Homo sapiens: one gene and its partners. The protein of the gene in region 4 interacts with the protein of the main gene of each other region in a biochemical or structural test. Each region holds a gene or a part of one and is shown on either strand. Other genes may lie near its edges. The genes, in order: MDK, KREMEN1, GSK3A and LRP6.

Region 1 (6,740 bases), on a different chromosome or scaffold from region 4:
ACCCCCTGGCTTCTGCAGGGTGGAGGCCTGGGTCACACAGGCAAGAGGAAAGGGGTCAACCTGGTGGCTCACTCGGGTTTCCATGACAGTGGGAAGGGGGGAGGTGGGCAGTGAGGTAGGCACGCAGCCCTCGCATCTGCTCTCCCCCATGGGTAGAACCTTCCTGATTGGCTGTGGGTTGTATCAAAAGACCTTTGACTGGGTGAGGCTGAGATGGGTGTGGTGGTTCCAGTGAGTCAGCCAGGTTCCCTTCCCCAGCCCTGGTCCCTGAGGGAGATGAGGACCGAAAGGCTTAGGTGACTTGATGGGGAGCACCCTTTCAGGGGCCCTGGAAGAAATGTTTGTAATTGTTCTGCTTTTTCCATGAGCTCTGGAGAGCACCCACCACCAAGCCCCCTGAAACCCACCAGTCCCTACAGCCTGGTCTTTCTCCCCACCTTCCCACTCCCAAACACATTTCCACAGCAAACTCCTTGGGAAGGGGCTTTTATATATTAAAAAAGAAGAGCTTTTATTGGGGGGAAAAAGTCAGTTTATTTGATGTGTTTCTTAGTAATGGAATTGTGGGGAAGAACAAAAGCGGGCTCTGGGACTCACATTGCTTTGGGGGAGGCTCAAGCTTCCCAGAATCCCTTGTCCCTCCCCACTTTGGGCACTTAGGGGTGGGGCTGGGGAGTGAGAGGGACAAGGCAGGGCATGATTGATTAAAGCTAACGAGCAGACAGAAGGCACTGGTGGGTCACATCTCGGGCCTGGGAGAGGGAGGGCGTGGGCCAGGCCCCATGTGACACCAGGGGCTCCTTGGCATCCAGGCTTGGCGTCTAGTCCTTTCCCTTCCCTTTCTTGGCTGTAAAACAAGAAAGAAATATTAATACCATATCAGCAGTTAGGCTGACCCATTGCAGACCGCCGGCTCCACAAACACCCGGGCATCAGGGAAGGAGAAGATTCTGCCCCCTAGTGGTTTCCAATCAGCTGACTCGGAAGCAGGGGATGGGGCAGCCATTGTGATGTGGACATGGGACATCCCCAGCTTCCTATTTCCACTTGGGATCAGAAAACCTTCAAGTTTCCAGTCCTAGTCCTGGTCACAGCAGCCCTGGGCATCCTCAGCCTCCTCACCTGAGAAGCGGGCAGATTCACCCCTGCCCTGCTGGCCTCGCTGGGCTGAGTCACGAGTGAGCTGAGAGGCCCAGGGTGGGCCTTGACCTCCTCCCAACACTAGAAAGGGCAGAGCTGACCAAATGCTGCCCGTGGCTGGAGAGCTGACAAAGGCAAGCCGTTCCAGGACACTCTCCCTGGGTCCTAAGCCAGATGCTCCAATGGAGTAGTTTGAGTTGGTCCCTATTTGGGCCAGGGAGGATTTATGTCCCCAGCATCACCTGCGGCCTCTCTTGTAGTGCCCATCTTCAGACTTTTCCAGGCAGGGAAGCCAAGTGAGGCGATGTCAGGAAGCCACTGGCCAGGACTCAAAACTTAAGGTTTAACTTGGAATTGTCCCCTCACAGGCGGGGGGGGGGGGGGGCAGCCCCCCGCGACAGCCCCACCCCCTTCTCCTTTCGCTGACCTTTGGCCTTTGCTTTGGTCTTGGGGGTGCAGGGCTTGGTGACGCGGATGGTCTCCTGGCACTGAGCATTGTAGCGCGCCTTCTTCAGGGTGCCTTGGCGGACTTTGGTGCCTGTGCCCCCATCACACGCACCCCAGTTCTCAAACTTGTACTTGCAGTCGGCTGGCGAGAGAGCGGCCCAGGTCAGCGCTGCGCGGCCCGCGGCCCCGCCCTCCGCCAAGGGTCCGCCCAGGCTTCGGCGAGGCTGTGCCCCCCGTCTCCTGCCCTCTGACTGCGCCCCGCCTCACCTCCAAACTCCTTCTTCCAGTTGCAGGGCACCCTGCACCGGATGCGCTGGGTCTGGGCCCCGCAGGTGCCCTCGCGGAAACCCACGCCGCAATCCTTGCTGCTGGGGGTGCAGGGCCCCCAGGCCCACTCAGCGCACTCGCTCCCCGGGCCGCCCTTCTTCACCTTATCTACAACGCGCGAGGAACAGAGTTCAGGACTGGGGCACGGGGAGACTCCCTCGGGAGCCGCCTTCCTGGGGTTCCAGGCTAGGAACCCAGGCGGCCCAGCCCAGAAGTGGAGGGGCCTCGCCTGCCCGTCCCCAGCCCTCCTTCGATCATCCCCCATCACCTTTCTTTTTGGCGACCGCGGAGGTGAGCGCCAGCAGGGCGAGGAGGGTGAGGAGGAGGAAGCCTCGGTGCTGCATCCTGAGGGGAGAGCCCGAGTCTGAATCCCTGGCCCGTCCCCTTCCCCACCGGGGGCCGCGTGCAGGGCCCTCCCACCTCCGCGTGCTCCACTTTCCAGGCCCCAAGTCGGGCTGCTAAGGTGGCGGCGGTGGGAAGACTTGGGGCGGCCCCTCGCCGCTAGCCCGGACGCACCGCTAAGAGGCGACTCCCCGGGGGACGCCTCGAGCCCAGGACGCAGCTCAGACCCCCACCCCCGCCTCCAGCCCCCAGCCCCTAGATCGGCCGCGGCCGGGCGGACCAGGGGCCGCCGCGCGCTCACTCGCTCGCTGCCCGCGCTGCTTCGCTCCCTCCCGCGCCGGGCCCGTCCCGCTCCGGCCGCCGCGGCCCCTTTTGTCTCCAGAACCGGTCTGAGCCGGTCACATGGGCCCCCGCCCCCTCTCCCCACCCCCCCAGGGAAGGACCCGCCCCGCCCCCTCCCCTCAAACCCGCACCGCCCCCGACCCCGGCGTCCCCGCCCCCGCTCCAGCCCGCGCCCCCCGCGCTTCTACTCCGGCGTCCGTGTTCCCGGCCCCGCGTCCTCGCGTCTCCCCGCCGGTGCCCTCTGCGCTGCGACGGCGGCCTCTCCCGGCCCCATCTTCCGAGCGGTGGTCTCCCGACCCCGGGCCCCGTCCCGCCCGCGCACACCGGCCCCCGGCCCACTCCCTGCGCCGCCGCCCGCTGCCCCCATCCCAGGTCGTCCCCTGCCGTACGCCAAGGCCCGGGCCGTTCTCAGGCCTCAGCTTCTCTTGCCTGCCGCGGAGCCCCGGCGCCTGTATAACCCGCGGGACCCGCTCCCCTCCACGGCCGGCTCAGCCCTGGCGCCCTGCTGGCTGCTGGGGAGGGGGCGCGGCCCACCTGGGGCGGTTTCCGCGGGTGGGCAGGGAAGCGCTCTGCTGTGCTGGGGGGAGTCTGGGACCCGGTCGCCCAGAGAAAGCCACGGGTGCGGTCGCCCAGTGCCTTTCCGGGAGCACAGGCTTGAGGGACTGCGAGTGGGGGTCCTGGGGGAGGAGCCCGCAGGCCTGGATTTGGTGAAACTTGGCGCTGACAGGAGCCGTCTGAGAAGTTCCAGATCCAGCCACATCGGCAGCTGCAAGTGCCCACCCCCTCTAACCCTGGGCCTGTGGCATTGCCTCGCCCGGTTCCCCCAAACCGGGAGAGCCCCCGAGGCCTGGGGGAGGGGCTTGCTCAAGGCCACAGGGCAAATGGGCCACAGAACCCGGGCTCGCCCCCGCCCCACCCCTCTTTCACTTTCATTGTTGTTCTCCGCGGGAAGCGGGAAGCCGGAGGGATCGGCCCCGCCCCCGGCCCCGACGAGCGCGGCCGCCGGGCAGAGGTCAGGAACCGGGCAGGCCCTGGGACCAACCACCAAACGGGAGCCGGGGCCCCAGGAAGGTGCTGTCGACAGCGTCCAGTCCCCCACCCCGAGGACAACCCCGCAGCCCCCGCTGCTTGTTAGACCTCCCCCGCAAAAGAAGAAAAGCAGAAAAGAAAAAAAAATCCACTTTACTGAGTCACACCCAGCTGTAAACATGTCACCGTGAGAGTCCCGCCCCCCACCCCCAGGCCGCACAGTCCGCGATGAAATGACAGGGGAGCGGGGAGGGTCGCCGGAGCGGGTGCCAAGCAAGGCAGGGCAGGCAAGTGCAGCAGGCGCTGAGTTTCCGGGAGGAAGCCCGGAGGAGGTGGGGTGGGGCAGGAGCGGGGGCTGGGGACCCGGCCGAAGACCAGGGGGCCCAGGAAGCCTCTTCCCGAAGGCCTCCCCCTCTCCAGCCCCTCCACTCCTGGGAGGGCATCTGCTGCGGCCAGGGAGCGCCCTGCCCCAGAACCCCGGCAAAGGCATATCCAACCCAGCCGTGTCTTGTTCCCTGTGAGCCTCCGGGTCCGGCGGGGTCCTCAGGGGAACAGGTGAGGCCCCCCCAGCTCCTGAGTCCAGCCCTAGGTCTGGGCGGCTCCTTAGGGGGCGGCATGGGGCTCTTTCCCTGGGGCCTAGGTCCCCCCGTGGCCGTCCCACTGGAATGTGGCAGTGAGGTGGGCAAGGAAGGCGCTCGTCCCCTGGCCGCATTGTCCCTCCTGCTGCCCGTGGGCGGCCCGCTACACAGCCGTCTCCTGGTCCTCCCGCTGGATCATCTGGTAGTGCTGCCGGTTCTCCAGGTAGGCGGCCAGCTCGGTGTCCTGAGCCTTCTCAGCCCGCTGCCGGGGAGTGTCGCCCTGGAGGAGGGCGGAGCTGCGATCAGCAGGGGCCAGAGGCAGGCCTAACCCCTAGCAGGCTGAGAGGCAGGGGCTCTACCTCCCTGTGGCCTGGTCAGGGAGGGAGGCCTCTCTGCCCACCAGCTCCTCCCCTGCTGGCTCAGGTTTCCCAGGGTCTGGACTGTGTCTTCCCAGGGACAGCCCCCAGCCCCAGCTCCCGCCTAGGACCTTGGGAAAGGTTTGGTTGGTGCCCTCGTGGGCTCCCTGCCTGCCGTCTGCTCACCTGCTGGTCTGTCTTCATGAGCGAGGCCCCGGCCTCCACGATGTAGTGGCAGATGGTGCGCTGGCCCAGGGCCGCTGCTTGGTGCAAACAGGTCTCCCCGCTGGGGGAGCAGGGGCTGGCTGTGTACCCCATCCCGTCCCCTGATCCACCCATCTGTCTCCCAAGGGCCATCAGAAAGGGCAGGAAGTTCAGGGCTCTGGGGCAATAGGGGTGGCCCAGGGGATGACAGATGTGACCAGGAAGTTTATGGGCTCTGACCTGACAAAATGGGAGGGGTGGGGAAAAGGGTGGTTTCCGGGGTGACCACGGTTCTGCACTGCCCAGATACTTACTTTTCCTCCACCGCATCAAGGATCTCTGGGGGGGCTGGAGAAGGGGAGGTGGTGGTCAGAGAGGCCTGGCAGCCCCTCCTCCTCCCACCTTGGCCCCAGGCCCTGGGCTCCACTGCCCGGCTCACCGTGGTCCAGCAGGTAGCGGACCACATCCTTGCTGCCAGTGCTGACTGCGTGGTGCAGGAGCGTGCGACTCTGCTCGTCTCGGTGCATGAGGTCGCCCCCAGCTCGGTGCAGCTCCTGGAGCTGAGGGCAGGAGGCATGGCAGGGCTGGACCTCCTGGGGCCACCCCTCCTTCCCTGAGCTCACACGCTGGCCCACAGCCGGGTACACCAGCACAGGCCTGAAACGAGTGCGCTCACACATCTTACTCCTGAGTTGCCTCTGTGGGTCTCTCTGGAGCACACCGGAGGAGGGGCCTCTCACCCCACAGCCTGTGGGCTCTCTGGCAGCACTGGTGACCAAGCCCTGGAGCAGTGCTTCCTCTGACCTGCTCCTTTCTAAGCACCAGGGACAGGTGGACTGAGCTAGGAAGCCCCTACTAGGAGCCATCTATTGTGGCCTAGACAGAGATACAGTGAAGTGGAATGGGACGATCACTGGAGATCCCACAGAGGGCCAGACGATGACAGATGACAGCACCTGAGCAGGTCAGCTCTTGGCCCAACCCAGAGGCCTCGCTCCCCAGGGCCCGAGGGAGCTGCTGGGGGAAGGAACTGGAGCCTGGAGCTAGTACCTTACAGAAGTCGTTCCTCTTGGCAGCCTCAATCAGCTCTTCACCTGCACGGAATACCTGCCTGTTACTCTGCAGTCGGAGGCCTGGGCTTGGGTTGGTGCCTCAGTGGACAGGACTGTGCCGGCCAGGCATGTGTGCCCAGGGCTCCGTTGGTGCGTGAAGCTCAAAGGCTGTGTTTGTGTAAGGCTGTGTCTGGGCCCTATCCCCACCCCACTGAGCCTCCTGCCCCCAACCAGGCAGAAAGGAGGGGCCCCAGAGGGAGAGGCCTCACCTTGAGGGGGTGCAGCATCCCCTTGCAGTGACCTGCAACAGAGCATGATGTGCTGTGACCGGCTACGGCACAGGCCAGCTGGTCGCCCTCCCCAACCCCAACTGGGGGCATCTTCATCCTTTCCACAGTTTATTGAGTGCCTGCTACACACCAAGCACTATTCCAGGCACTGGGGATACAGCAGGGAAACGAGACAGAGGAAGGCCTTGCCCTCATGGAGCTTACATTCTAGTTCAGGGATACAAACAAGTCAAATAAATAAGGAGTTCTGAGAGCAGGGGTGCTCTTAAGAATTCAGAACAGGTGATGTGGCACCCCTGCAGAGGGGGTCCTGGGAGTGATCTCTCCAAGGAGGAAACAGCCAAGCTGAGATTCGAAGGGGATGGGGGTGGGGGAGCTCCGGAAAGATGGGGGAAGAGTTGGAGGCAGCGATGACAGAAGTCCAGTGGTGGCAAACACCTGATGCCTCAAAGAACCAAGAGAAGAGAGTGGGGCAGGACCATGGAGGTGAACTCAGGGAGGGGGCTGGGAGCCCAGTGCAATGACGGGGGGCCTGGGGAGAATCCACGTCCAAAGGGCTGCTGAGAAAGAAGCTTCTAGGTTGGGGAGTGGCCTGGTATGCTCTGCATTTTTAGTTGACCGTGGTATGGAGAT
Region 2 (7,000 bases), on a different chromosome or scaffold from region 4:
CAACTCTGCTCTTCCCCAGTCTCTGCCTTCCCTTCTAAGCCAGTTACTTTGAGCCCAGAAAAGTGCATTCCCATCACTCACCAACTCTCAGACATCTCTAATGTGATGGGTCTGAAAAAGTCACACAAGACAAACATGGTGTCGGGTGTCAGTTGAGAAATCAAAGTAGGAGAACTTGTACAAAGCCCTTCTTTAAACAGTATTTCATTGTCATTTTCCTCCCTCTATTCGGTGTTCAGCTTTGATGTATTTATTTGGTAAAGCCCTTAGAAAACTGTTTATTATCAATGTCAAAACCATATTGAAAAGCATCAGAATAGCTTAATAAAGAACAAGCAAATTCATCCTTGACTTTGCTGCAGTGCTAAAACAAAAGGCCTGGGCTCTTTGATGTGATAATCAACAATTTCAGCCTCCCTTTTCCAAAGTATAAACTGGTATTAAATAGTTCAGGTCTCCTGCATTCCATCAAATCAAACGAGAGGGTTTGATGTGATGGCTGATCAGGGCTAAGGAGAAAGGTGGTCCCTCCTGGCTCTCACTGCTCTCTTAATGGATGTTTATGGGTACATTTCTAGAAGCCTGTGAGTAGAAGTGGGTGCTAATCCACAAGAAAGAAAAATTTTTCACATAAATTAGGCCTCACTGGAAACTTAAAATTTACCTTAAAGTCAGACTTAAAAACATGAGCTCTTCTGAGAAGACTTGCTTGATAGGAAGCAACAGAGCAATAGAATAAACCAACAGCCTACTACCAAGAGATATTTTGGAACAAGAAGATAAGCAACTATGGAAAAACAAAAACCAAATACTTGTCTCTCTTCCTAAACACTCTTCCCAACCCAACCAACTATTCCTATGAATAGAAAACCTAGGGGAAGGTAATAAAAAATGGGGTGGGACTAATTTTTTAATTTATGCAAAAAATAAATTAACATGTATAACTTGGAAAATAAAATATAAAAGAACTATTTAATAAGCATGTGTAACTTGAACAATAAAATACAACAGATAGCAAAATGTGAAGTGGCAAATACCCAAATTGGTTGTCTCTGGGACTTGGGACTTGGTGGGGAGGGTTTCAGGGAAAATAGGTAAAATGGGGAATTTTAACTATTTAAACCACATATATTTGTGGTGTTGGAGAAGTTTTTTTTTTTAAGAATAAGCTTTTAACACTTTTATAACAAACAAAATAAGTCAATAGCAACTAGGAGGGAATGGTCAGTTGATACAAGATAGAGAAAGGTATAGGGATAAAGAAAACATAGACTAAAGGCCTGGTGACTTTGAGACAACTACAAGGGCCCTAGAGCGTTAGCAAAGGTATGTAGAGGGCAGAAGGTAAACAGTGTGGCCCATACAATACAGGAAAATATATGTTGGCTCAGCTGCGTCAACAGTGCCATGGTTGAGATTCCAATGTATGTAGAACCAGGGACAGGGTATATAGTTCAACAATCATTTTTCCCTGTCCCAGTAGCTCAAGAGGCTGCCTTTGCACCTGTACTAATAATAATTAAATTCAATGCATTGCTGAACCATAAGTCTCATTACCAGGATCTTGGGCATAAGCAGCACAAATGTATAACCAAAAGTGCTTACAGTCTTTGTTCTGGACCCTACATACCAGTGATCCTGAACTTGTTTTCAATCACAGATAACTTTGAGAAGCTGATCAAAGCTATGGATCATCCCCAGGAAATTGTGAATCACTTTTGAAGCACCATAGATGTCAGGTTAAGATCCCCTGCTAGAGTCAGACGGGAGGTGAAAAGCAAAGAAACACCTTAGTCGACTAAAAGGAAGTAAATGGCACACATCTGATGGATACAGCTGTTCCCAGAGCAAGGTTATCCTGGGCTGGCCGGAGGCACAACAATGTAGGCAGCTTCCTTTGCTCAGAAGCAGAGGGAGATTTGGGTCACACATGGTGCTGTCTGACCACGACATTCTCGGTAGTGTAGGCTGCTCTGCTAACTGTGTATTGTCCACTGGTGGTAGGGCTAACTAAGAAAACCCTCCCAAAGAGACAAGGAAGTGATCAGACAGAAAAGCAGAGCTTTCAAAGCCAGCATTAAAACAACCCATGTTGAAAAGAGTGGTAAATTGGCCGGGCGCGGTGGCTCACGCCTGTAACCCCAGCACTTTGGGAGGCTGAGGCGGGCGGATCACAAGGTCAGGAGATCGAGACCATCCTGGCTAACACGGTTGAAACCCTGTCTCTACTAAAAACACGAAAAATTAGCCGGGCGTGTTGGCGGGCGCCTGTAGTCCCAGCTACTCGGGAGGCTGAGGCAGGAGAATGGCGTGAACCCGGGAGGCGGAGCTTGCAGTGAGCCGAGATCGCGCCACTGCACTCCAGCCTGGGCGACAGAGCGAGACGCCGTCTCAAAAAAAAAAAAAAAGAGTGGTAAATTGTGTGTGTGTGTGTGTGTGTGTGTGTGTGTGTGTGTGTGTGTAAGGTGTGAAAGAAATATTTTTAAAACTGACAAGATAAGTCTCTTGAGTTGGTCAAAAGACTTCCCCTAGTTGTGAGCTGGGATGAAAGGGGTTGGAAGAAGAGACTAGATATATATCTATCTTTTTAAAGTACTGAGTGGCCCCATCTTACCTGCAATAGTTGTGCTCACCCAGGCCCCCCTCCCCGTTGGGGTATTTCAGAGTGTTGTATGGATGCTGGAAAGTCTCGTTCCAAAACAGACATGGCTTCCCGCCTTGTAGTGCTGTCCAGTTCTGTGTTCCCCTATAATCCGCACCATTGGCTGTGAAACACTCTAGAAGAAAAAAAAGACAGAGCAAACTAATTTTCTGGCAACATTCATGGTTTCCTCCCTCTTTGGTTGATGTTTTGTTTTGTTTGGACCAAGCTGGAAATGGATAGTGTCTTGCTAGATCCTGGACACAGTGCAGTTAACACTTCTGGGGCTGAATAAATCTGAAACAAGGTACCCTCAAAAAGCTAGGCTAATCTTGGCACTAGCTTGTCTACAGACACTAGAACATTTTCCCCTAAAGTATACAGATCCCAACTAGGAAATAAACAGGGAGCTGAAGTGTACTGAAGCCCATGAAGTGAACCAGGAAACCCCTAAATCTGGGAACAGTTGGTAACAGCCATCCATGTGGAATTCTGGATACTCTGAGGGGGTCACTGCTCTCGCCAGTGGCTCTGTGTGGTAACTGGAACCAGGTCACCAGCTGTAACTGAGCTCTTCCCTACAGTCTGAAAGGCTGCACTGACACTTGGATTTAATAAGATCATCGGATACAGCAATGCTTTGGAATCCCAATCACACAAATCTGGGAATGACTCACATTCCCTGGTAATGAAGAACAGTCCTCCCCATGCTGTTTGAGATAGAGGTGGAACAAAACAGACAGTCAACATGAGGGAGGAAGGGCCGGGCTGGCATTTTCTCTCACCTCTTTCTGAAATTCTTTTGATGAGGCACATTGAAAATGGTCTCAGGTCCAATTTAATAAAATGACAAATCCTCACAGGTGCAACAATGTGTTTCTAAAATCTGCTTCTCAGACTTTGGGGGATGGGGACTGAGGCTGATAGGATTTTCACCCACATATTGCATGCATTAAACTCGAAGAGGTTCATGAGACAGGCACAGTACAAAGAACAATTTTTTAAAATTAGCTTAGTTGAAACTGACAGAAGCACTTCAAACACTTCTTTAAGATATATCATTAGAAAACTGACAACCTGGGGGAGTTACACTAGCATTCTTAGCTGCATTTCTTTCCTTCTCCTGGCATGCACTGACCTATAACTTCCAGTATTAAGGACTCTTAATGCCATCTCCTGTTGTCATCCATGTGCCTACTCCAGTCTAAGCGTGTGAACAACATGAACACATTCTGGCAGATATTTCTTTTAATACTTCAAACTATCCACAGAACATCTCTCTTCCAGCACCTCCTTCCTCTGACCATCCAGGCCCTGTGTTTTGTCTGGAATGGCACCATTTTATGGATAGCCAAAATAATCTGAATGTCCACCTATGCAAGAAACCCTAGGAATTTATTTTTTATTATTTTTATTTTTTGAATGGAGTCTCACTCTGTTGCCCAGGCTGGAGTGCAGTGTTGCAATCTTGGCTCACCACAACCTCCGCCTCCCAGGTTCAAGCGATTCTCCTGCCTCGGCCTCCCTAGTAACTGGGATTACAGGCACCCACCACCATGCCCAGCTAATTTTGTATTTTTAGTAGATACAGGGTTTCACCATGTTGGCCAGGCTGGTCTCAAACTCCCAACCTCAAGTGATCCACCCACCTGGGCCTCCCAGAGTGCTGGGATTATAGGTGTCAGCCACCACACCCCACCAACCCTAACAATTTATCATGTTTGGTGCAATGCTCATGTGTTATGATAAGTGCAACTCTTCGTGTACCATAAGGACCAAACCCCTCTACCAAGAGTCTGCACAAATAAGTTCAAAGGAGGCATAAATTGAAGGAGGCAGTTCAGTGTCGCATAAAATGCACTAAACCAAGAGACTAAGCCTTGGCTTCTTGTCCTGGACCTGCTGCTGACCAGCTGTGCGACCTTGGATGAATAAACATCATCCAAATCACTTCTAATATTTACACAGTGTTTTACCATGTGCCAAACTCTGTCTAAGTGCTTCACAAATGTCAACTTGCCACCAACCCAGAGAGGTACCTTAGTACCCCATTTTACAGATAAGGGAGCTGGGCACTCGACCACACCCTATACTGCCTCTAATGGACCCTCCTCAGCATCATTCTTGCTTCTCCCATTCTCTCCCTCACTCCACTTCCGATTCGTCAGCAAGTCCTGTTGACTTCCCTAAAACATACACCCTGAAACTGCCTTCTCTCCATCTTTGATGCCACCAGTATAGTCCCCTTTATCATCAGAGAACAGTTTGGGTCTCACAGCTTCCACTTCTGTTCTCTCACAATCCATTCTCCATAGTTCTTAAAAGAATGATGGCACTCAAAACAAAACTCAGACTCTTCCTCGGTGTCTGCAAGGCCTCTGTGATGCAGCCTCAGCCCCTTCCTCCCATGAAGCAGAGCTCTTCCCTTACTCACTCGCTGTGCTTCGGCCACACTGGTCTGCTTTTAATTCTGTGAACACACTATGCTATTTCCTGCCCAAAATGTTCTTCCCCTAATACTTCCCATCACAGACTGAACACTACCTTCTCAGAAAGCCCTTCTCATCATCTTTACTCCTATTTTTCTGCCCTTTGTTTGCTTCACAACACTTACTATCACAAGAAATATATGTGATCTGAGAGAAAGAGAGAGAGAGAGACAATGTGTGTGGTATGTACCACACCAGACACACCAGAGCTCTATCCCAATCCCAGAGCTAGAGCAGGACCTGAAACCTGTATTTCTGAAAGGCAGCCCAGGTGGTTCTGTTAAGCAATCAGGTTTGAGAACCACTAGACTAGATGATTCTAAGAACATCAGCCAACCCTTGCCAATTGCTAGAATTTTAATTGCTGTGTGTTAATACATGTTTTTCTCCTATCAGAATTTGTACATCAAAACATCATACTGTACCCCTTAAATATATAGGATAAAAATAAAATTTTTTTTAAAGTGTGAAGGGTGATCCAGGGGCCAGAAATCAGAGATGCAGCTCAATAGATCAATGGAAGGTCTTAGCTATACATAGCAAACTGCAGGACAGGTGGGGTTCCTGAGACTCGGATGACTTGGTTTGTAATACAAAAGAATGTAGCAGAATGTGTAATAAAAAGAATCCATGGCCGGGCACAGTGGCTCAAGCCTGTAATCCCAGCACTTTGGGAGGCCGAGGCGAGCGGATCACCTGAGGTCAGGAGTTCGAGACCAGCCTGGCCAACATGGAGAAACGCCGTCTCTACTAAAAATACAAAATTAGCCGGGGGTGGTAGTGCATGCCTGTAATCCCAGCTACTTGGGAAGCTGAGGCAGGAGAATCGCTTGAACCCAGGAGGCGGAGGTTGTGGTGAGCCGAGATCGTGCCTTTGCACTCCAGCTGGGGCAACAAGAGTGAAACTCTGTCTCAATAAATAAATAAATAAAATGCACACACATGACAGTCCTCATGGAGACGAGATGGCATCTGAGAGTGGAAATGGGAAAGTGCAGGCTTCTTTGCTTGGGTCTGTTCCTCTCAGACCCAATCTTGTTCTCAGTTACACTGGTGAAACTGAGGCAGTGTATCAGATTCTGTGATTGTTTTTTGACCAGACTTGCCCAGTACATATCAATTACAGAGAAAAGCAAGGGAAACCAACTCGAATGCTCTGCATTTAAAGTCATCTAGCGCATCTTGATTTCATCAGAGTACTAGGGTGTATGTTAGGTAAATAGGACCCTACCTCCCTTATTTTTTTTCTTCAAAACAGTGATTTTATTTCCTTTGAATATATACCTAGAACTGAGATTGCTAGAATATGGTCATTCTATTTTGAATCATTTGAGGAACCTCCACACTGTTTTCTATCGTGATCATGTTAAGTTTTTTAACTTTTATTTTGGGTTCAGGGGTACATGTGAAGGTTTGTTACACAGGTAAACTCATGTCACAGGGGTGTGTTGTACAGATTATTTCATCACCCAGGTACCCAACAGTTATCTTCCTGCTGATCTCCCTCCTCCCACCCTCCACCCTCAAGTAGACCCCAGTGTCTGCTGTTTCCTTCTTTGTGTTCATAAGGTCTATCATGTAGCTCCCAGCCTCCCTTATTTTCTACTGCTACGAAACTGATGTAAGCTTTGGCTAAATAAGCAAGGAGCGGCTTAAACCAGTAAGAAACACACACACACAGAGCCAACTGTTTATTTACGTATTCAGTGAAAAGAGAATGAGTGAAAGCAAGAGATCTAATGTCTAGGAAATTATTCATTAATTAGTTCAGCAAATATTTATTCAATACTATGTGCCTGGCACTGTTCACAGCACTGGGGCTACAGAGATGAACAAATATCCTGTATTCATGGAGCTTACATGTTTATAA
Region 3 (7,553 bases), on a different chromosome or scaffold from region 4:
TGACTGGGGCACTTGCTCTATGACCTCAGGCAATCCTCTTACCTGAGTTTGTTTCCCTGCTTTTAAACTTAGCTTACACTTAGAATGGGTATAACCACAGTACCTACCCTCAGAGAATCTTTATGTAAATTAAACAAGAATTTGCTTATTAAGCACTTACATTGAGCAAATGCCCAGTAAAAGCTCTGGGCTCTCCTGGGATCCACATTTCCCATCTTTCACAGGTCTCATTTCCTCTTTTCCCCCTTCTCTTCTGGCCCATGGCTCTGAAACCCAAGCCTCCAGCTCTCTGGCTCAGGTTCTCCCACCAGTCACACCCAGTCCCCAAACCTCCCTGTCCCCATCCCGCCCAAGCTACCTTGAACCTCTTGTCCTGGAGAACCTTCTTGATGGCGACTAGTTCCCTGGTCTCTGCCAGCCGTGCCTGGTACACGACCCCAAATGAGCCATTGCCAATCACTTTGATGTCCGTGTAAGCCACTTCTTGGGAGCGCTCTGGGCCTTGGCCTAGAGTGGCTACGACTGTGGTCACCTTCCCGCTGTCACCTGGGGAACAAAGGGGATACACGATCCACTGACCCATCCTGCCTGCGCATCACCCTATCCTGGGGCTGTGGGAGGAAGGGAAATCTCTGCAGGAAGCTCGTTGGGGACCTCTTTGTCCCCTCCTCCTCTTTGAGGAAAGGTGGATGCTGGGACCTTCCCAGTGACTTTTCCCCTCTTCCTTTCTGGGAATCTTAAGTCCTGCTCCCCTCCACATAGGAGGATATTGATACCTAAATCTCTCTGCTTCAAGGGTTGGCAACCCCAAATTTCTACTTCTAGGAAGCAACAGATCACTGGTCCATCTTGGTACTGGGAGACATCAGATGTTGACTCCATCTACTCTGGATCTACTGCCCTCTGGCCCCTCCTATTTGGAGAAAGCTTGACCGAGCCTCTTCCACTTCAGGGAGCAGTAACCCTGAGGTACTCCTACTTTAGGAAAGCACTAACCTCTCTCACAGCCTAGAGGATACTGACCTCTAAGTCCTCCCCTGTAGAGCTGGTAACTTTACTGGTTCTTGGTGACAGAAATGAATGTCCTCTCCTGCTATAAGTGCCAGTGCCCTGACCCTCACTTTTTGGTACTTTGAGGTTAGAAAAAAACACTGACCTGACCTCTTCATCTGAGTGGTCCAGAGACCCAGACCCCTCACTATATGTGGGTGGTCCCTAATGGACAAGCACCAAATTATGATAATGATGAACCTGACCTTTATTATCAAGGAGCTATTCCAGCCTCAGTCCTTTGAAGGAAAGCTATAATTCCCAATTCCCATTATTCAAATGGTGGCAAACCTTGGTGCCATTCTTAGAGGATAGTGACCCCTTTGAGTAACTGATGAACCAAATCCATTTTTTTGTTTTTTTTTTTGAGACACAGTTTCGCTCTCGTTGCCCAGCTGGAGTGCAGTGGCACGATCTCGACTCACTGCAACCTCCGCCTGCTGGGTTCAAGCGATTCTCCTGCCTCAGCCTCCCGAGAAGCTGGGATTACAGGCGCCCGCCACCACGCCCAGCTAATTTTTTATATTTTTAGTAGAGACAGGGTTCCACCAGTTGGCCAGGCTGGTCTCGAACTCCTGACCGCAGGTGATCCGCCCACCTCAGCCTCCCAAAGTGCTGGGATTACAGGCGTGAGCCACCGCGCCCGGCCACCAAATCCATTTTGAGGGGCCAGTGACAAGTTCTTTCAGAGGGAGATAACCCTACATCACTTTTTTTTTTCAGAGCCAATGACACCATACCTTAGAACAATTATTAAAAAAGTATAACCTTAGATCCATATTCTGTAGGAAACTGTGACCTACCCTGCTCCATTCCATTTTTGTTAAAGGAGACACACCAAGCCATGTATTTTAAAACATGGACTATGGACTTGGTTTGAAGGATATGCTGACTCCCAATGTCTTTATATCTAAAAGGCAGTAACTATTAATTCTCACCATTGGCAGTACAGCTCAACAAGATTTAGGGTGGGTAATGATGCCAGGTCTTGGTTTTAATAGGGAAGATGATCTGAGTACCAGGTTTGGAAAGCCTGGCCCTATTCTTTGGGGACAAAACACAGTAACCTCAAAGCCCTGCTTCTAAGTGATATTCGCTCCAAATCCCCATCTTCTGAAGGACAGGGAATGCAGATCCCTCTTTTTCGGGGTTGGTCTTATTCTTGTTCTCTTAGGAGACAATAACCCTAGATCCCCATTTGCAAGCGACTGTGACCTCTGATCCAATATTATAATGAATAGCAACATCAGATACCTGTTCTTAAGGCTCAAGGACCCAAGACCTCAATAATGGAAGAACAGAGACTTGTAACCCGTTTCTTTAAGTGTTAGTAATTCTGATCCACGAGTAATTCTGATCTCCAAGAGATGGTAACCCCAAGACTCCTTTTCCTGGGAGGAAGAGGGCTCGGATCCCCGGTATGGGGAGGCACAGTGACCTCGAGCTCCTATCTAAGCACATGAAAGAATCTGATGGATGTCTGAGGAGCTTTGGGAACCCTAATCACCACCCTACACGGGCGCCACTAGTACTCACGGCCCAGCTTCACCCCGGGCGGCGGGAAGCTAGTGCCTGCGCCGGGGCCTCCGCTGCCTCCTCCGCCGCTGCCGCCGGGTCCACCCCCGGAGCTCGAGGCCCCGACGCCCCCACCCATGGCCCCGACAGATGCCTTTCCGCCGCCGGTGCCGCCTGGGCCGGAGGCCGAGCCTCCGGGGCCGCCGCCGCCTCCTCCGCCTCCGCCGCCGGGCTCCGCGAACGAGCTAGTCCGCGCCCTGCCCGAGCCCCCAGGGCCGCCTCCCGAAGGCCCGCCGCCGCTCATGGCGCCGAGCACAGGCCCAGGCTGCGGGGCTCGGGCTGCCCGGGCTGCCCCAGCCGCCGCCGCTGCCGCCGCCTCCCCCGGGCCCTGGCCTCTTCCAGGCCGCGCCGCTCTGGCTTGGGCTCCGGCTCCGGCCCAGCGCCCGCCGCGGGGCACGCCGGGAGATGCAGTCCGGCTGTCGTCCGCGCCGCCGTCACCGCCCTCGGCCCGCACAGAGAGCCGCGTGGCACGCCGGGAAATGAAGTCCACAAAAGCCTCAGAGTAGACCGCGGGAATGATGGGCGGGAATGACGGGTCACGCTGTACGTCGGGAAATGGAGTCCAGGGTAATCTGTCAGCCGACTGTACGACGGGGAGCCCTGAAGCACTTTAGGAAGCAGAGAGCCTGATGCACGCTGGGAAACGGAGTCCACTCACTCAGTCTATTAGCTGTGTATGCCTCCCAGAGCTCGGTGCGCTCTGGGAAATTGAGTCGGCCCGCGTGAACCTGCGGGTCTCGGGCCGTGAGGCAAGCCGGGAAATGGAGTCGTCGCCACGCCCTCACCGCATTGCAGGTGTAAAGCGATTTTTAAAGCACGCCGGGAAATGGAGTCTCAGGTGGTTTTTAAGCCCCAGGTGGATACTGCAGTTCCGGAGATGGGCGAGGAAATGGAGTAGGTTTACGCGCTCCTCTTTCCAGGTACGCTGGGCCGCAGTCCCTGCCGGGAAGTGTAGTCAGCACCAAGGCCTCAGTGCAGTTGCCACAGCGAGCCCTGGTGTGTTCTGGGAAATGGAGTTCGACGTATCCTCCCCATTGACTGAGGGGGCGGGATCGCCCATGAGCTCCAAGCATGCTGGGGAATAGTCCAGACCTGACCCTCTGTGAGGCCAGTCTGCGGAGGCTTGCCGGGAAGCGAAGTCCAATGGCCACCATCAGGGGCGTGTGAACGAAAGGTTAGAGACTGCGGCAGTTCCCTGGAGAGACTTAAAAGTGTTTCAGCGCCTCCTTCCTCGCCCCCAGGTCCTTCTTTAAGAAAGAGCCGAGGTCGATCAAGGACTGCTGGAAAATGGATCCAAGCACCTTTAAGTTCCAGGTGACCATAGATCAGGAAAGAAAAAATGTCCCCTCTCTAACCGCAACTCTGCAAAGATTCGGGAAACAAAGTTCCCGGCGGTTTCTCAGAACACTAACTAGTCTTCGGATACAGTCTAGCTTTTCCTAGCAATGTGGTTCGCACCAGGAAGCTGAATGGAGCATTAAAAAGACGGAAATGTCATTTCTGGGCCTGGCGCTGTGGCTCAGGCTGGGCGCCAGTAGCTCACGCCTGTAATCCTAGCACTTTGGGAGGCCGAGGCTGGCGGATCATCCGAGGTCAGGAGTTCGAGACCAGCCTGGCCAACATAGCGAAACCCCCGTCTCTACTAAAAGTACAAAAATTAGCCGGGTGTGGTGGCGGGCGCCTGTAATACCAGCTACTCAGGAGGCTGAAGCAGGAGAATCGCTTGAACCCGGGAGGCATAGGTTGCAGTGAGCCGAGATCGCGCCACTGCACTCCAGTCTGGGCGAAAAGAGTGAGACTCCGTCTCAAAAAAAAAAAAATCCTGTCTTGAACCACCATTCAGTTTTCAGTTTTTGGTTTGTTTTGAGACAGGGTCTCGCTCTGCCGCCCAGGCTGGCGGGCAGTGGCGCAATCACAGGTCACTGCAGCCTCTAACTCCCAGGCTCAAGCAATCCCCCCACCTAAGCCTCCCATGTAGGTGGGACTACAGGCGTGCACCATCACGCCCAGCTAATTTGGTTTGGTTTGTTTTTTGGGGTGGTGGGGGGTAGCGGGGTGGGCTTCGCCATGTTGCCCAGGCTGGTCTCCAATTCCTGGGCTCAAGCGATTCTACCTCAGCCTCCAACGTGCTGGTATTTCAGGCTTGAGCCACGGCACCGGGCCTCCCACTCTTGTGTTTTGCATCCTCCGCTTCCTAAATTACAAGATCCCGGAAAGCCAAAAATAAGGAAGCCAGCTGCCTCAGGTTTTGTGTACTCAGTGAGTCGTCCTATTTATCGATTAATACCCGAAGGAGAGTAGCCCCCAAAAGGCGCTGGGAAACAGAGTTCCTGTGTCTGTATGTGTCTCTTCCTCCCCCGGAAATACTTAGAAGTAGAATGAAAGCGTTCTCAGCCCCTCCCGCATCCTGGAATGGTGGGAAATGGAGTCTCTGGACTTCACGTTAATCCGAGCTTGTGCTTATACTAACTGTCCTGTCCTTTCTGAAACCAGAAGAAAGTCCTGTCCACTCAGTTTGTTCCTGACTGCAATTCCCCGCGGACACAACTGCGGGGGTCGGTAGCGCCAAAGCCTGTTGAGACTACATTACCCAGAAGGCAAAGTGCGGAACACTTCCGCTCCCTTCACAAAGCAGGTGGCCGCACCACGCGCGGCTAGGCGCGGGCGTTTCTGGGAGTTGCAGTTTCCCAGCCAAATGGTACCTGCTGCCCTCTGATGGCAGCTCTGAGTCAAAAAGTAAAAATTTCAGTCGAGCCCCTTGGCCTAGGGATTCCAACGCGGGACCAAGACGGCTCAAAAGGGCGGCGACATGGGGCAGGATAGCGAGGGTTATTTAACCGCCAGAACCCGTGGGGCATGCGCCGCTGCGTGTGGGCAACCGCCACGAGGGGATTGGGGTCCGTGGGAGTTTGAAGGTGACGGTCTGCAATCTATCAGGATGTTTGTAGAGGATGAGAATGTTCATAGAGGGATGCTAGGAAGGGTTGTAAACGTCTGAGAGAGGCCTATGGGTGTCTAGAAGGGCTAAGAGGAGTCCGTGGAGTGGTGAAGGGGTCTTTGATGAGCTTAGTTGACAGGATAATTACTGGGGACCAGTGGAGAAGCCTGAGGGGACTTAGGCTGTCTGCTAAAAGTTCTATGGGTGGGTGGACGCGATGGCTTACACTTGCAATCCCAGCACTTTGTGAGGTCAAGGCCGTGGATCACTTGAGGTCAGTCAGAAGTTCGAGACCCGCCTGGCCAACATGGAGGAAACCCCATCTCTACTAAAAACACACAAAAAAATTAGCCGGGCGTGGTGGCCCACGCCTGTAATCCCAGCTACTCGGGAAGCTGAGGCACAAGAATCTCTTGAACCTGGGAGGCTGAGGTTGCAGTGGGCTGAGATTGCACCACTGCACTCCACCCTGGGCAACAGAGTGAGACTCTGTTTTGAAAAAAAAGAAAAAAAAAAAAGGTCTATGGGAGACAGAAATTACTGGTGACCAAGGGGATCTCTGAGCGACCTGAAGGGGTGAGGGATGGTTGAGAAGCATTGGGAAGGGGCTTTGAGAGTCTGTGGAGGTACTGGGGCTACACGTACAAAGCAGGGAGGTCTCTGATGAGATTAATTAATATGTGAAGTGCCTTGAGAGCATCTGTAAAGGGCTTTCTACTTGGAAGCAAGGATCTCAGAGGATATGGATGGGACCAAGGGTGTCTTCTTGCAGGAACATTTCAAGCCAGCTAGCTAATAGATTTAGGTGGGCGATTAAAGGTTAGAGTAGCCGCTGGAGTTTTCAAGGCCAAATGCCACCTGTGACATCCTACACAGCCAGAATCTGGGGCAACTTGTCTGGTAGGGCTGTGGTCTGACCTGGACAGCAGTTAGGGAGCTGAGCTGAGCACTTATGATTCCATATTAGATGTGGTTAGAGGTGCTTTGAAGGCACTGGGTTCAGGGGCTGAGGCCAGTAGTTAGGGTCCTCTCCTCCCGAGTGACAACATCCCCTTCTCCATCACCCCACCACCACCACCAACTCAGCTGCAACTATGTTGCCAGGAGACATGTCTCATCCCAGCTTCCAGAAATAGCCCAGTGGCCCCCACCCCAGGGAATGACTTACATCACCCAGGAGAGGGAGCAGTTTCCCGCAGGCCGCCTCGGGAGCCTCGGTTTCCTGCCAGTATCCTAGCCCTGGATCCTCTCTTCCCTGCCAACCGACATCATCTGGGACCACCCACCCTGGCTGGCATGAAATGAGATGCGAGTGGGTAGCAGTTGCCAGTCAACGTTTCTTCCCCCTCAGGGTTGCACAGGGTGGAGTTTCATGGCGAAGCCAGTCCAACAAGCCCTCAATTGCCACTCCATCTCTTAGCAGCTGTGTGGCCTTGGGGAAACCCCTTCCCCTTTCTGGGCCTCAGGCACCTCACCTGCATGGTGGAGACAGAACTTGTCTCTAAGGGTACTTCCAGCCTGGATTATTCCTCCTAATTCTTTCATCCCTGATTCAAGCTCTCCAATCTCAGCTTCTAGCTCTATGAGCTCATCTCAAATCCTCTGATCCTGAAAGCCTGATCTGGATCCAACTATCTTGGTGTTAGGAAGGAAAAGTCAGGAGTTGTTGAAAGAACGTGGGCTTTGAAGTCCTGGCTCAGCCACAGGGCCCTGGGCAAGTCACTTAGCAGCACTGGTTGCCCCTACCTTACTGGATACTGAAGGAGCTACAACACTGCAGCTCTTAAGTATTGGACACACAGTAGGTCAACAGCATCGATGACTAGTGAGCCAGTCCCTTGGCTGTGTGCTGGCTGGGGGTGTTCCCATACCTGGACCTGAAGATCACCAAGTTACCTTGCAAGGTCTACATTTCAAGAGACACCACAGGCTGTTCTCCAAAGGACTCCCAGCTGAACTCAGAGCAACAAGAGAGGGGTGTGGGCAGGGT
Region 4 (7,032 bases):
TTTTGAAACTATTATAAAATGGTGCCATCCCAAAAGTCAGAAGCCACACATGCACTACAAGTACTTTCTAAAATCATCTTTCACTACAAGTACTTTCTAAAATCATCTTTCTCTTGGTTCATTTTAGGCTTAAGAAATACCAAATAAAATTAAATTCCTTGGGTTTAAGAATTCTGATAATGTTTTAAACAACACCTGACTATAAGCTTCTTTAGGACTCAGTCCACACTTAGTGCATAGTCTCATCTGTAGATGCCCAAATATTTGTCCACCTACTGATAACTGGTCAACACACTCATATCCATACTCTAAATCAACTATGGATGCCATATGTAGACTTAAGCACCACACATTTATTAAGAGCTGACATATTTCGGATGTGAAAAGTCCAAGATTTTTGTTTCTGAATCTTGTTAGATACGTAATGATAACCAATATGTAATTCCTATGGCATGCAAATGAATGAAGTGGGACAAAGCTTCCCCTACAAGAAATAAAACAATTCAAAATATGACATTTCTAAGAATCTAATCTAGGCAGCTGCAGCCTGTTTACTGCATAGAAGTAGGCGTGCTTAACGCATACCTCTTCAGTCTCTATTATGACTACTGGTATCAAGTCACATAAATAAACACACTTCATTAACACACTAGGTAAGCTACAGCTATTAACTCTACTGGAAGTATTCTTCATTAATAGGGCTTTATAGCAAAAGAAAAAGATGATCCTCCAAAACTGCTACCTAATACAGATGATGGCTATTTTTAATACCTTCAATAATGAATGAGTTTCCTTCATATAAATTACTGACTTTAGGATATTTTTAAATGATAAAGAAATACAACCCTCAAAATCATCTTAAAATTGTACTGCTCAAAGCCCCTTCCCCCAATTACTGGCCTATATTAGATTAAAATGTACTTTAAAGTCTTCATTTCTAAGTACCTATCATCTCTGTAGAATAGGTGTTCTCAAACTTACTAAAGAATCAGAGATCTCTTGGTAATGTATCACAAGCTACTTTTATATTAAAATTAAAGTAACTACATAATCTTCTGCTAAACAGATATCTTGTGATATGCTGTAAGAGTGGCAGAAAGTGCCAAAGGCATAATAAAATTTCATGGAAGAAAAATTAATAGTCAGAAAATTCTATCCACCAACTCTCTTTGTTTCCCTGTGAATGTGCTATTATCTGACTTAAGCAAACAAAACTCCTTAAGTCACTATTCAGAAGACCACGACTCTGTTGGAGCAAAGTCCAGGCCTTAGTTATAAAAGACCACTTCAATGCAGAATAGCTTACTGTGGTGCACACAAAGTATGTTATGCTCAAGTTTATTTCTTGGACAATTTTAATCACATCAGTTAGTGCATATATTTTAGGACACATGTTCAAAATAAATACTTTTGCATATAAGGAATCTAATGAAACATTATTCATTTTCCCCCTTGGACAATGAATTTAATACACCAAATTTAAAAATCCCTTTTCTTTTTTCCCCCTAATTTGTGATCTCATGCTTTTCCTCTCAACTTTTCCAATTACAGCTTGTGTTTGATAATCAATATACAGTTTACTTAAGCTTAACTGTCCATGTAACCTAAGGCTCAATAAATCTTTCCAAATTTGACAATTCTCTCATTAAAAAGTACTCCCAGAAATATTAAGAATCCATCTCATCTACCCCAGAAAGAGAACACTGAGATTAGGCTGAACTGCCTTCAAATAATTTTAAACAAATTGGCACACAAATTAGTATTTTGAAGAAGAGGCCATTGCCATCGCAGTGCAAGCACGTGGACTGAGATCCAACAAGGCAATATTCTTCTTAGTTAATTAGAGTGCAAGTCTCCACATGGGAAGCCCACCAGATCAAGATGCACATTTAAATATGTAAACATATAGAATTCTCAAATTCTAACTGACACCCAGGTATTGCTAACCTTTCCATCTTCATTTAAGCATCAAGTGCCCTGTGTATCACAGAATCCAAGTTCAATGTCCATTTTGTCTGACACTGTGGGCACTTAGTTCCAGCAATGGGAAGAGTTCATGCTTGTCTGTTTTAGGATTCTGATAGATTTACCATTTGCTTATATGCAAAATCAAGTGCACCTGATTCTTACAGTCTCCAACAATCAGCATTATTCTGAAACCACAATTTTATCTTCAAAAACTTTACTTAGGTATTTTTAACTTGCATGAACAGTTACTTCACCCTTGCCCAAATTCTGAATCCTTTCTTCCACTGTTTTCTCTTGGGCCCTGAAACCCAGAGAGGCCTTGGCAAGACAGAATTAAAAAAGAAAAAAAAAAAATTCAATAATTAACTGACCAACACCTCTTAAGCTAAAAATACATTAGTTTAAAACCATTCAATTTTAGCAGAGAAGTGCTACACATGTGTAAAAAGCAGGAAACGAACTTCTGGCAAGGTGGCAGAGCAAGTGCTAGAATCATTCCACAGGTCAGCCCTGATAGCTCAAGATGTAGCAGCCCCAGTACCATACATGACAGCAGGTCAGGCAGATCACAAAAGAGGCTTCCATTATTCCCTTCCACCCAAATTCTGACAGCTGAGAAGTTAACAGTTTGCCTTCTCATTTAATCCTCATTGTTAAATTTGTTAAACTATCTTAATCCATAATGGGTAAGAGAGGACCCACATAAAAATATTGGGTGATTACAAGAATAATTTGTGGATAATTTGAAAACAGCCTAACATTCACAGTGGGTAACAGAAAGATATTAAATTCATGTCACACATTAGAAGAGGTATGTATGTAGACATTATTCTGAGAAAAACCGGTCTAAAGAACATGAAAACATCACAAACTGTTAATATAGGGAAAATCCTAATAAGAAAAAAATCTTTTTAAATAGATTGTCTCTAACCAGAACATATTTAAATGTTTTACTCAGAAAACAAACAAACAAACAAAATATATATATATATATATATATATATATATATATATATATATATATATATATAAATGATTTCGTACTGTGATATATGCTGAAAGTAGTGCAAGGATATGAGATTTACAACAAAAACATAATGGTTAAATTTTTAATTCTTAAACATTGTCTATATGTGTTGTAAAAAGACATTTTAATGAGCATTAAAACAATCTTGGAAGAAGAGAAATAATATGTCTAACTTTTGATCATTATGCAAAAACAGCAGTCAAATTGAAGAGCTAAGCCTACTGGGGAATGGAGCTAGAAGAAATATTAAAATCAAGTTTAATTTAGAAAATTCCATTTAGTCAATGCTTCAGCTTAAAAAAATCATGGTATCTTAGCAAAATGACTTACCAAGTTGCTGGAGGAGGCAGCAAGGTAAACATACCTAGAGAAAAAAATTCATTTTGACAGAGGTATGGATTCTAAAGGTAGGGACAGAGACTTGCACACACACACAGCTTCATGGCATCTTACCAGAGGGCTGATCTCTCCTACAACAGCAACACCCAGAATGGGTTTTTAGAAATATCTACTTTCCTCACTAGCACTGTTGGATTCCTAGAGAAAACAAAGCCCTTCGTCCAAGGTTAGTATTAATTGCATTTTTTTCCTTTCATCATTTCTTACTTGTTGGCCCTCAAATGTTAGTTAACTGAAGGCTATCTGGCTACATCCATGTATCTATGGTTTGCTGCTCTGAGATGGACTTAATTTTTCTTCTTCCTCTTTTTTATTTTTGGTATCAATAAAGCCCAGATATTCCTGGTCAGTGATGCCTTTATTATTCCTGTTTCCTTTGTACTCAGTTGCTTCACTGGGTTTAAGGCATGCTTTGTGTATTTAGTTTGCAAAAATAAAACTTTTAGTACAAATTTTTTTTATACAAACTTTTATGGCACAAGCAGCAAATCTGCTGTTTTAAGAAAATATATAAATATCCTTTTCTTCTGTACAAATATCTCCAGTATTCCCTACCCCATTTTATAATTTTAACTGTACATGGTCTGCCTCATCCTTCTCTAATAGCTCCCTCCCCCCCTCCAGATCTCAACCAAATTTATATTTACATTTTTACGTTGGAGGCAGTCAGAGGAGGAGGGCCCCTCCTCAGGAGGAGTCTGTACAGGGAGAGGGTGGCGGTGGGTAGAGGTGATGAGAATAGCTCCTCTCTGTGTATGGAGAAGGTGGGCAGCTTTCATAGTTCTCCTCTGCTGACAAGTATTGGCTTCGGGGTGTGGGAGGTGGGGGCACAGGTTCTGAATCATAGTTCAAGTCACTGGTATAGCCCTTGGCTGTTGCCACTGAGGTCATTCTCCGACTAGGAGCATAGTCACTGTCACAAACATCTGTGCTGCAGGGTGTGGTGGGGGGTGCAAAGTGCCGGTAGCTATATGGCCTGTAGCTGGTATAGGGAGAAAATAAAGAGAAGCAGTTAGTTTTACAAAAAAAAATGATTTCCCCTCTCAGAATAGAGGTATTAGATGTCAACTACCCTATGAAAACAATAAGCTACTGCAATTTAAATTTACACAGACCAAGAGGCAATTTTCAATGGCAGATTCGCTGAGGAAAATAGCAGGTACTTTCTTATTTGCAAATAAGAAAGTGGCAAGTGAAAATGAACAGGATGGGAATGCAGAGGTGAATTCAATCTAGCCTCTGGTTGTGCTCTTACATCTTCAAGTTAAACTGTATCACAGAATAAAAAATGACTATTCAAATTTGTTCTGCAGTTTCATAGCCCATGGGAAGAATGGGTTTTTACATATTTTACACTACTCAAACATGTCAGCATTCCCTCAACATTCTTTACTCCAAAATTAACCTGATGAATAATTAATTTAATGACATCTGAAGTCTTCATTTCTTTCTTCTGTACAATTCTGTACAATTTCTGTACAGTCCAGGCTGGATTTTGGTAGACAGCCTCAGGGGCATAACTATTCCATTGTTGTTATCTTAGCAAAGGGAAATTGCTGTGATTGGGGGAAACGGTTTTCATTCCCTGTGTATAGGTAAGTACCTCTCATAAGAGCAGCTTTAAACATCAAAATGATAAAATTTAAATGCCCATAAAGGGTCAGTGAATTTTCTAATGTATATTTCAGAGGCCTAGTTTATTTCTTACACTTGTTTATCTTTACAAGTGACATACAGTTGTTAGGTTTGTAGCACTGCTAACTAAAGAAAAAGGCATTGGAAAGAGAGAAACATACTAGTGAAAATAAGATCTGACCTAAGTTCTGGCTTTTCTGTCATTCCTACTTCTATTTTTAACTTCTTATACCTGTTTATTCTAAATATGGTAAAGCTGATCTTAAATTTATCCCAAAGATTTTTTCATAAGCTTTCTCATCAAAGTGACTACAAGAGAAGGGGAAAACCAAGTTAAAAACTGATACAACGATTCATAAAACACCTAGTGATACAGAGCACCACCAGGTAATATATCCCAGGAACCCAGGATACAAACCATTTGATATCACTTGGCTTGCTTCAAAAGAAATGGCTGCCAGATTGTTCACAGTCACAGATCAAATTCCTTGTTCTACTCTGTCTCCCCTTCTTACTACTGCATTTGATTAGTCTTTAAAAAAGAAAGAAAGAAAGAAACCAGCCTGGGCACCATAGCAAGACCCCGTCTCTACAAAAAATAAAAAAAAGCTAGCCAGGCGTGGTGACACACACCTGTAGTCCCAGCTACTTGGGTGGCTGAAGCAGGAGGACTGCTTGAGCCCGGGAGGTGGAGACTGCAGTAAGCTGTGATTGTGCCCCTGCACTCCAGCCTGGGTGACAGAGCAAGACCCTGTCTCAAAAAAAATAAAAATAAAAATAAAAAGGGTGCAAGGCTGCCAGAGACCAAAAGTTATATGACCCACTGAGTGAGTTCTCAAAGGCTTTTACTATCAATACTGACATGATGTCACAGTTTGTTTTGTTTAACTCTTTGTCCAATCAGGTGTCAATCCTTGGTGAAATTTCTAAGGTCAACATTTAAAAGTCCAAATACTTCTATTTTCATGAAAAAAAAAAAAGAAAACAAACTGAATTAATAAAATTTTTTCATGTCCCAGTTTAAACCAAAATCTCAACAAATGATGTAAGTTTTGACTCAGAGGAAACAGAAATTGGGCTTATACGGAAAATAGTTAAGCAAGAATAGTTTTTTATGCAATCGTGTTTATTCTGATGAGTGCCTTAGTCAATTTGAATTAAGGACATTACTTTTAAAAAATAAAATTTTGTATCTTTCTCCTTTCTCAATTTTCAGGCTTCTGCTTTTTCTGTTTTGGCTTCCTAGAAGAAGAAACTTGTGGCAGGGAAAGCAACATTACAACATATCATTAAAACAATCAGTTCACAGCCAAGGCTATTTCAGTCTTATCTAAGCTGAAATGAGAATTCTGAGTGAGATACTTTAAGTGGTTTCCACTTCATTTCTACACATGGGTGAGGTCGTATCAGGCCAATTTGACTGAAATGCTAGGAAAGATAATAGAAGATTATCTAGAGAGGATAGAAGATAGAAAAGATTATCTAGAAGATAACAGGCACTTGAGGGATGCCCATGAACCCTGGGCACTTCAGTGTGTAGATAGAAACTCTCAAGCTACTGATGGTCTGTTGGCCTTTCAAGGAACATAGAAGTGGAAGCTGACACAACAGTACTTGACCTGCTCAACACACTTTATAGACTCATAAATTAGCAAAAAGGAATAATTTTCTCTTTTTTGGCTTACAAATACACTTTATTTATTTCAATCTTTCTTTATTCCATGCAACTACATGAGAAATCTTTCACTCCAAATTGTAATAGCATATGCAAGCAATGGCTGAACTTACATTTCTCTCAACTTTTCTAAAATTCTGTGCTCTGAGTATGTTGCTGTTTTAAACTCTCAATTCTATGAACCAATCTTATCCCAATATTTCATTCTTAGAATATCAAACTATTTTGAAACCAGTCACTTTGGTGGGTAATTCCTCCTTAGAATACTGCCAAAGCCTGAGGCTGTATTTTATTATTATAAAAGCCAGCATTTGTGACTCTCTTAAAA

Evidence for each region.
Region 1: the proteins of LRP6 (region 4) and MDK form a complex in vitro, tested with the Homo sapiens proteins (one study listed by BioGRID).
Region 2: the proteins of LRP6 (region 4) and KREMEN1 interact in a biophysical measurement, tested with the Homo sapiens proteins (one study listed by IntAct).
Region 3: the proteins of LRP6 (region 4) and GSK3A form a complex in vitro, tested with the Homo sapiens proteins (one study listed by BioGRID).

Annotation. Positions count from the first base shown.
Region 1 is NC_000011.10:46,377,576-46,384,315, reverse strand, and holds MDK (midkine isoform a precursor), read right to left. Parts: upstream 2,648-6,740; 5' UTR 2,558-2,647; exon of another isoform or gene 2,260-2,557; 5' UTR 2,259-2,259; coding exon 2,183-2,258; intron 2,023-2,182; coding exon 1,855-2,022; intron 1,730-1,854; coding exon 1,568-1,729; intron 848-1,567; coding exon 822-847; 3' UTR 515-821; downstream 1-514. Other genes in the region: DGKZ (diacylglycerol kinase zeta), read right to left, coding at 4,369-4,485, 4,748-4,847, 5,080-5,113, 5,205-5,325, 5,816-5,859, 6,087-6,118. UniProt on the Homo sapiens protein: Secreted protein that functions as a cytokine and growth factor and mediates its signal through cell-surface proteoglycan and non-proteoglycan receptors. Binds cell-surface proteoglycan receptors via their chondroitin sulfate (CS) groups.
Region 2 is NC_000022.11:29,090,035-29,097,034, reverse strand, and holds part of KREMEN1 (kremen protein 1 isoform 3 precursor), read right to left. Parts: intron 2,778-7,000; coding exon 2,615-2,777; intron 1-2,614. UniProt on the Homo sapiens protein: Receptor for Dickkopf proteins. Cooperates with DKK1/2 to inhibit Wnt/beta-catenin signaling by promoting the endocytosis of Wnt receptors LRP5 and LRP6.
Region 3 is NC_000019.10:42,239,597-42,247,149, forward strand, and holds the start of GSK3A (glycogen synthase kinase-3 alpha), read right to left. Parts: upstream 3,007-7,553; 5' UTR 2,870-3,006; coding exon 2,587-2,869; intron 547-2,586; coding exon 359-546; intron 1-358. UniProt on the Homo sapiens protein: Constitutively active protein kinase that acts as a negative regulator in the hormonal control of glucose homeostasis, Wnt signaling and regulation of transcription factors and microtubules, by phosphorylating and inactivating glycogen synthase (GYS1 or GYS2), CTNNB1/beta-catenin, APC and AXIN1.
Region 4 is NC_000012.12:12,117,045-12,124,076, forward strand, and holds part of LRP6 (low-density lipoprotein receptor-related protein 6 isoform b precursor), read right to left. Parts: intron 6,285-7,032; coding exon of another isoform or gene 6,235-6,284; exon of another isoform or gene 6,138-6,234; intron 5,562-6,137; coding exon of another isoform or gene 5,471-5,561; exon of another isoform or gene 5,448-5,470; intron 4,377-5,447; coding exon 4,082-4,376; 3' UTR 1-4,081. UniProt on the Homo sapiens protein: Component of the Wnt-Fzd-LRP5-LRP6 complex that triggers beta-catenin signaling through inducing aggregation of receptor-ligand complexes into ribosome-sized signalosomes.